Homo sapiens: one gene and its partner. The protein of the gene in region 1 interacts with the protein of each later gene in a biochemical or structural test. Each region holds a gene or a part of one and is shown on either strand. Other genes may lie near its edges. The genes, in order: RAI14 and FEZ1.

Evidence for each region.
Region 2: the proteins of RAI14 (region 1) and FEZ1 form a complex in vitro, tested with the Homo sapiens proteins (one study listed by BioGRID).

The regions. Positions count from the first base shown.
Region 1 is NC_000005.10:34,827,237-34,830,458, forward strand, and holds part of RAI14 (ankycorbin), read left to right. Parts: intron 1-2,495; coding exon 2,496-2,561; intron 2,562-3,222. UniProt on the Homo sapiens protein: Plays a role in actin regulation at the ectoplasmic specialization, a type of cell junction specific to testis. Important for establishment of sperm polarity and normal spermatid adhesion.
Region 2 is NC_000011.10:125,489,481-125,493,310, forward strand, and holds part of FEZ1 (fasciculation and elongation protein zeta-1), read right to left. Parts: intron 343-3,830; 5' UTR 298-342; coding exon 1-297. UniProt on the Homo sapiens protein: May be involved in axonal outgrowth as component of the network of molecules that regulate cellular morphology and axon guidance machinery.

The DNA of each region.
Region 1 (3,222 bases):
TAAGGGCTCTTGTGATTACATCTAAAGCCCACCTAGATAATCCACGATAATCTCCCTCTCCATCTCAAACCCTTAATTTCATCTGCAAGATGCCTTTTGCCATATAAAGTTTAACATTCACAGGTTCTGGGGATTAGGATGTGGACATCTTTCAAGAGCCATTATTTAGCTTACCACAATATCTGTTAAGGTTTGAGTTGGCATGGGTACATTCCGTTTTCTACCTAAAGTCCAGGGTTAGTCTGTCCTGGACTGTCTCTAGCTTCCATATACAAACAGAACATGGATTTGATGATTTCTTCGGAATAGACCTAACTGTAGTGAATTCAGGTTTCTGCAGTCCTTACTCTGGCTGGCCACAAAGTTCAATGCTAGCTTTGGAGGAAACAGCTCTAGAAATGGTGGATACTTAGGAGAAGCTGCTCTTTACTGTGTTCTGCAGGTCATTCTTCTCCTGATAAAATGGTATTACAGACTTGTAGATAAAGTGCTATTGGTTTATACAGTAATTCTTATAATTACGCAACATGTGTTTGTTGAGCTCTTACATCAGTATTATACATGGGGCTGATGATATAAAATGAGTAAGACTCAGTCCCTGCCCTCAAGGAGTTTATACTCTATATAAGTTATCAGCAAAGAGATGCCCAGCATACCGTGGGCATACAAAGGAAATGTGTCTACCCAATCTTGCTGAGTCATGAAAAGGTTCCTACGGGAGTTACACTTGTGCTGAGTCTTGAAGGCCTGAGTAAGAATATGTTGTTACTTAGCAAGGACTGACATATGGCACTAGCTGGCTTTTGGGAACCTTGGTGAGAACCATTCCAGTGGAGTGGGGAGGAGGGTAGAATCTGGACCGCAGTAGACTGGCTGCTAGAGAAGTAAGTAAGTAGATAGGTATCTGGTGGGGCTAACCAGTCGCAGTAGGGGTTGGGGGAAGCCTGAAGCAAGCTTGCTGGAAAGATGGGAAGTGGTGGTTAGGGTGTGGGATGCTTTCAGTTGAGATTTCAGAGGTGGTAATGATAGAGGCAGGGCTACAACCATGACAGGAGTTGCTGAACTGAAGAGGAGCATGTTATTAAAGCTGAAGTTGAGGAACTGAGAGGTCCAGGTGTTAGATGGATCATTCACACAGATATCAAAGCCAAGCGAATGATGACAGAGGCAGTGATAGAAAGGAAGCCAGATCAGAAGATAAAATCATAAATAATTGAGTAGAGGTTGCTGAAAGGTGGGGAGGGAACAACACAGAGAAATGCCAAATGTGCCTTCTTATGATGTGAACTTAAAGGACGGGTTTTAAAATGTCCCTTAATAACAGGAAAGATACCTCATACTCTGACACTGATGGGGGGAAGGAAGAATGGGTATTATGGACTTTTGTACATTTTTGAAGTAATCCATATATGATGGTCTCAATTTTCATGATGAATTAGGAGGACAGGTTCTTAGAACAAGAGTTTCAGAGATAAGACCCTTGAAACAGCCACTGAGAGGAACTGGAGTAATAGCTCAACAAGGAGAAATAGAAGCATCAGCGGCTGTATTGAGGAACCACTGGAGATTGGGGCCACCACCCTCTTTGCCTTCTTAGTACACTGATAGCTAAATAATTGAGCTCCCCAAGGATTATACAATGCTGGCCATATAGTGGGTAATCAATAATTCCCTTAAAAATAATAGGCTTTAAAAATTAAATTAGTACATATTTGGTCATTGTAGAAAAGTTGAAAAATAAAGAAAACTCTAACAAGTTCCTATAAATAAAAATTTTCCATAATTCAATAACTCTGAGATAATCACTTTTTACATTTGATATATTTCCTTGCAGTATTTACATTTAATGTAGCTGTATTTGCATAAGTATATGTACATATATACACACACATATATACATATATACACACATATATAGACACACATACACACACACACACATACACACACACATATATATATATATTTTGAGACAGAGTTTTGCTCTGTCACCCACGCTGGAGTGCAGTGGCGTGATCTCGGCTCACTACAACCTCTGCCTCCTAGGTTCAAGCGATTCTCTTGCCTCAGCCTCCTGAGTAGCTGGGATTACAGGTACTGACTACTACGCCTGGCTAATTTTTGTATTTTTAGTAGAGACGGGGTTTCACCATGTTGTCCAGGCTGGTCTCAAACTCCTGACCTCAAGTGATCCACCCACCTCAGCCGCCCAAAGAGCATATATTTTTAAAACCAAATGTGGGGTGATAATAACTCCTTTTTATACAGTTTTTTCTAGAGTTGACATACCAAGACTTTTTTCCCTAAGATGATTGACAAGTATTCAGAAATACACAAGCCAGTAAGGCCACAACAATTTTAGAAGCTTCCAGTGCTAGCATAAAGTGGAGGGGACCACTTGGGTAGCATTTGGCTGCAGCTTTCTCATAGTTTTTTGTTTTTGTTCTTTAAAGATCTCTTAAGCTCATTAATAATGTGAAATATTCCCTTTCTAGGAATGCAAGAAACAACACCAGGAGGTCATATCAGTTTACAGAATGCATCTTCTGTATGCTGTGCAGGTATGGTTATGCCCCTTGAAGTATCTGGACATCCTAAAGAAATACGGCAGCAGATGTTGACAGAACTCCCATCATTTAACTAGGAGAATGAACAAGAATTAGAGGAGAATCCTTTTCACTGGAAAGCCTGAATATGCCTTTTGCATTGCTTTGGATTCTGTGTCAGGAGCCTTGTGCCCTGTTTACCAGGAACAGCCCCATCTTTTAAAGCAGGGCCTCACTCTGTCATGCAGGCTGGAGTGTAATGGCATAATCTCGCCTCACTGCAGCCTCGACCCACGGGCTCAAGTGATCCTCCCACCTTAGCCTCCCAAGTAGGTGGGATTACAGGTACCCACCACCGTACCTGGCAAATTTTTGTATTTTTGTAGAGATGGGGCTTTGCCATGTTGCCCAGGCTGGTCTCAAACTCCTGAGCTCAAGCAATCCACCCGCTTCGGCCTCCCAAAGTGCTGAGATTACACGCATGAGCCACCATGCCCCACCCTCCCATCATTTATTGAGGAATGAGGGATGATGTGGTCCTCCACTGGGAAGACGGGGGCTTTATTTTCCAGCAATGCTGATCTTCTTAGTTACCAGTGCTGCCTTGGCTCTATGATGCTTGGTGTTCTGGCTGCTGGACTCACATTTGCAACTGAGACCCCAGATAGCTTTTGCT
Region 2 (3,830 bases), on another chromosome or scaffold:
GGTCTCCTCCTCCTCTTGGATCTGTAACTGGTTCTTCACGGGAGCTAGGTTCTCGGTCTTGGCGTTGTAGTTCCGAAAGCAGACATTGAGCTTCTCATCAAATTCATTTACGAGGTCCTCCATGGACTTGAAGCTGATTATTTCGGAAGAAAAATTCTCAAGCTCGGAGAGGGAGGGGTCCTCGAGATGGTGGGGAGATGAACCATAGAAACACTGGGGCTTCTCCTCCGGGTCCTCCGAGCAGGAGGGTCGAAGGTCCTCAAACTCTTCATCCAGACTCACCAGTGGGGCCTCCATTCTTGCTCAGCAGGAGAACAACAGCGACTTTCAGGATGAGTTTATCTAAAAGAAATGAACAGCGTAATGTGAGTTTAGACCAGGCTAATCTAAATAATAGAGTTAACTTTAGAGACACACCTGCTTCCAATTCCCTACTCCAAAAAACAAGGCACTGGTTAAGTACGAAGCTCCTGGACAAGATCGTCTAGGTTTGCATTCTGTTCTGTCCTACCAGCTGTGACCTTGGGCAAGTGATTAATTGCTCTGTGCTTCTTATTCTTCTCAAGACAGATATAATACTGAACCCACCTCAAAGGGCTGTTAGAAGACTAAAGGAGTAAACACAGGTGAGTGCTTAAAACAGTACCTGGAAGATAATAAGTGCCAATATTATTGAATACTTTCTGTTGGTGTTTTAGTATTATTATTTTTATTACTATTACTATTACCACAGATCCATATCCTTAACTATGTGATCTGAAAGCTGAAAATTCTCCATGACTTGTTTGGCAGCAAAATGTGACATGATCTAAACTCATCTGGCAACTAAACATGACCAACATGAATATAAAGCTGTTCATGGCTTTAATTTATCCCATTTTGTGTGTTTTGCTGCAGAAATATTAACTTTTTAATTACAAAGATTGCTATCCCAGATCCCACTGGATGAAATGCGGAATGTACACTCTATTACTACTTTCCAAAATCTGAAATAATCTGAATTCCAAATGCCTGGCCCCAGGGGTTTTGGATAAGGGTTTGTATACCTAGATATTACTACCCTTATCAATAAATAGTAGAAACTAATAAAACATTGGCTGGATGTGGTGGCTCATGCTTGTAATCCCAGCACTTTGGGAGGTTGAGGTGGGAGGATCATTTGAGCTCACTCAGGAGTTCAAGACCAGCCTGGGCAACATAGTAAGGTCCCATCTCTATTTTTATTTTTTTAAAAAAACTAATAAAACATCAATAGAGACCTTCCAATAAATGCCTGAGTTGTTTTTGTTTCGTTTCGCTTTTGAGACATAGCTTCACTCTGTGGCCCAGGCTGGAGTGCAGTGGTGTGATCTCAGCTCACTGCAACCTACACCTCTGGGTTCCACCAATCCTCATGCCTTGGCCTCCCAAGTAGCTGCGTGTGCCACCACACCCAGCTAATTTTTGTATTATTAGTAGAGATGGGGTTTCACCATGTTGGCCAGGCTGGTCTCGAACTCCTGACCTCAGGTGATCTACCTGCCTCAGCCTCCCAAAGTTCTGGGATTACAGGCATGAGCCACCGTGCCCAGACAAGCACCCAAGGTTTTCCCACACATAGAGCATATGCCTAGGAGCAGAGGAATAGACTAAATGATCTATTATCCTGTATCCTGTAAGAAACAGACCCAACTACCCATGTGCTCCAAAGCCATACTCCATAACCATCTTGGGCACTGCACCCTGGAACGCTGCACACACAGAACTCCCTTCAGTTCCCACCAACTGTGGGACCTCTACCCCTCATCGGGCCATCTTCATGCACTGCTTCCAACTGTGATTTATCCATCTGTGTGTACATCTGGGCCCCATTCAATTTTAACTTAAATTCCTCGAGGACACAGAAATCCTCTGGATATCTTCCCTGGCTCCAAATATACACTGCCTACCCTGTGGCTAGGCAGTCAATCAATATGTGCTCGTTGAAAAAATGATCTATCTCCCACATACAGTTTTCCATTTTCAGTTTCAGGCAGCACAAGCATTGCTGACTATCATACCCTTCTCTACACGCTCAACAGAAAGGCTACCAAGCTTTTCTCTTCGGTCTATAGGGTTATTGATATAGTTAGGTGCTCAAATTGGAGGCGCTTCCTGAGGGGAACCAGACAGCAAAATTCATGGATTTTGCCCTAGGAGTGCCCATTCTCCATCTCTACCTACAAAACTAAAACTCTAAATAAGCAAGGCAAAGGACATGCCAGGCAAGAACACTGCCAGTTTGTACCGGGATTTTGCTGGGATTAAGTTGATTACCGTTGCTTTAAAACATATTTGGAGCATTTACAGTTTGCAAAGGCAACATGATAGGACCTTTGAATACAAAAATATATACAAGTAGTACCATATCTTGGAAAGAAGACAGGCTCGAGAGCCAACAGATCTGCCAATGGCTGGCTGAGTGACAAGCATCATTGGTCCTGATTTCCTCATTTGTTATAAGGAAGGTGTTGGTACAGAGTTAACATCTTTAGGAGTTATTTTTAATAAATCAATAATTTAATTAATCATTTTGATTGAAGTAATATGTTTATTTAATCCAATATATCCAAAGTGTTACCATTTCAAAATGTAATCCACAAAAAAACTAATGAGGCAGTTTTTATTCTTTTTTTATACTAAGCCCTTTGAAATCCAGTGTATATTTTCCATTTACAGTACATCTCACTTTGGACTAGCCACATTGCAAGTGCTCAACAGTCAAATGTGGCCTGTGGCTACCGCAAGGGACAACACAGCTCTAAAGCAAACACAAGTAATTGCCAGTCAGGGGTTCTTCATCTTCAGTACATAGACCCCTGCAGGCTCTTTGAAGGTAACTATATTTCAATGAAATTGGTTTCCTTTACAAGACTAAGTATTTTATTTTATGCATTTAAAAACATTATTTGGAGAAGGAGCCCACAGGCTTCTCCATACCACCAAAGGAGGTCATAGTGCAAAAAAGATTAAGAATCCCTGAGCAACAAAAAAGTGAGATTAGAAAAGATGGCAGAATGCAGTAGAGAGTAAAACAGTTTTCACAGCCCAGGGATTTGTGTTGATTAAGGCAGTACTCTGTGATGGCTAAGAGCATAGGCTTTGGGTTCCTGTCCTGGTCCTGTCACTCCTAGTTGGGAGACTTTGGGCAAGTTATCAACCTCACTGTGCCTCAATTTCATCATCTATAAAATGGAGTTTAAAACAGTGCTTCCCTTGAAGATTACTTTTTGGACTAAATGAGATCATCTTTGAAGTGTTAAGTACAATGTGCAGAATATAGAAAGCATCCAATAAATATCAATCATTCTAGAAAAATCAAAGCTGGGCACGGTGGCTCACACCTGTAATCCCAGCAACTGGAGAGGCTGAGGCAGGAGGATTGGTTGAGCCCATGAGTTTGAGGCTATAGTGAGCTATGATCACACTACTGTATGCCAGCCTGGGTGACAAAGTGAGACCCTATCTTTAAAAAAAAAAAAAAAAAAGTTAAAAATAATTCTAGGAAAACCAGGATAGCTAACTTACATAGAAATGTGATGTGGGGGCTGGGCACAGTGGCTCATGCCTGTAATCCCAGCACTTTGGGAGGCTGAGGTGCGTGGATCACCTGAGGTCAGGAGTTCAAGACCAGCCTGGCCAACATGGCAAAACCCTGTCTCTACTAAAAATACAAAAAAAAAAAATTAGCTGAGCATGGTGGCAGGTGCCTGTAATCCCAGCTACTTGGGAGGCTGAGGCAGGAGAATCGCTTGAGCCCAAGAGGCAGAGGTTGCAGTGAGCCGAGATCATGCCATTGCACTCCAGCCTGG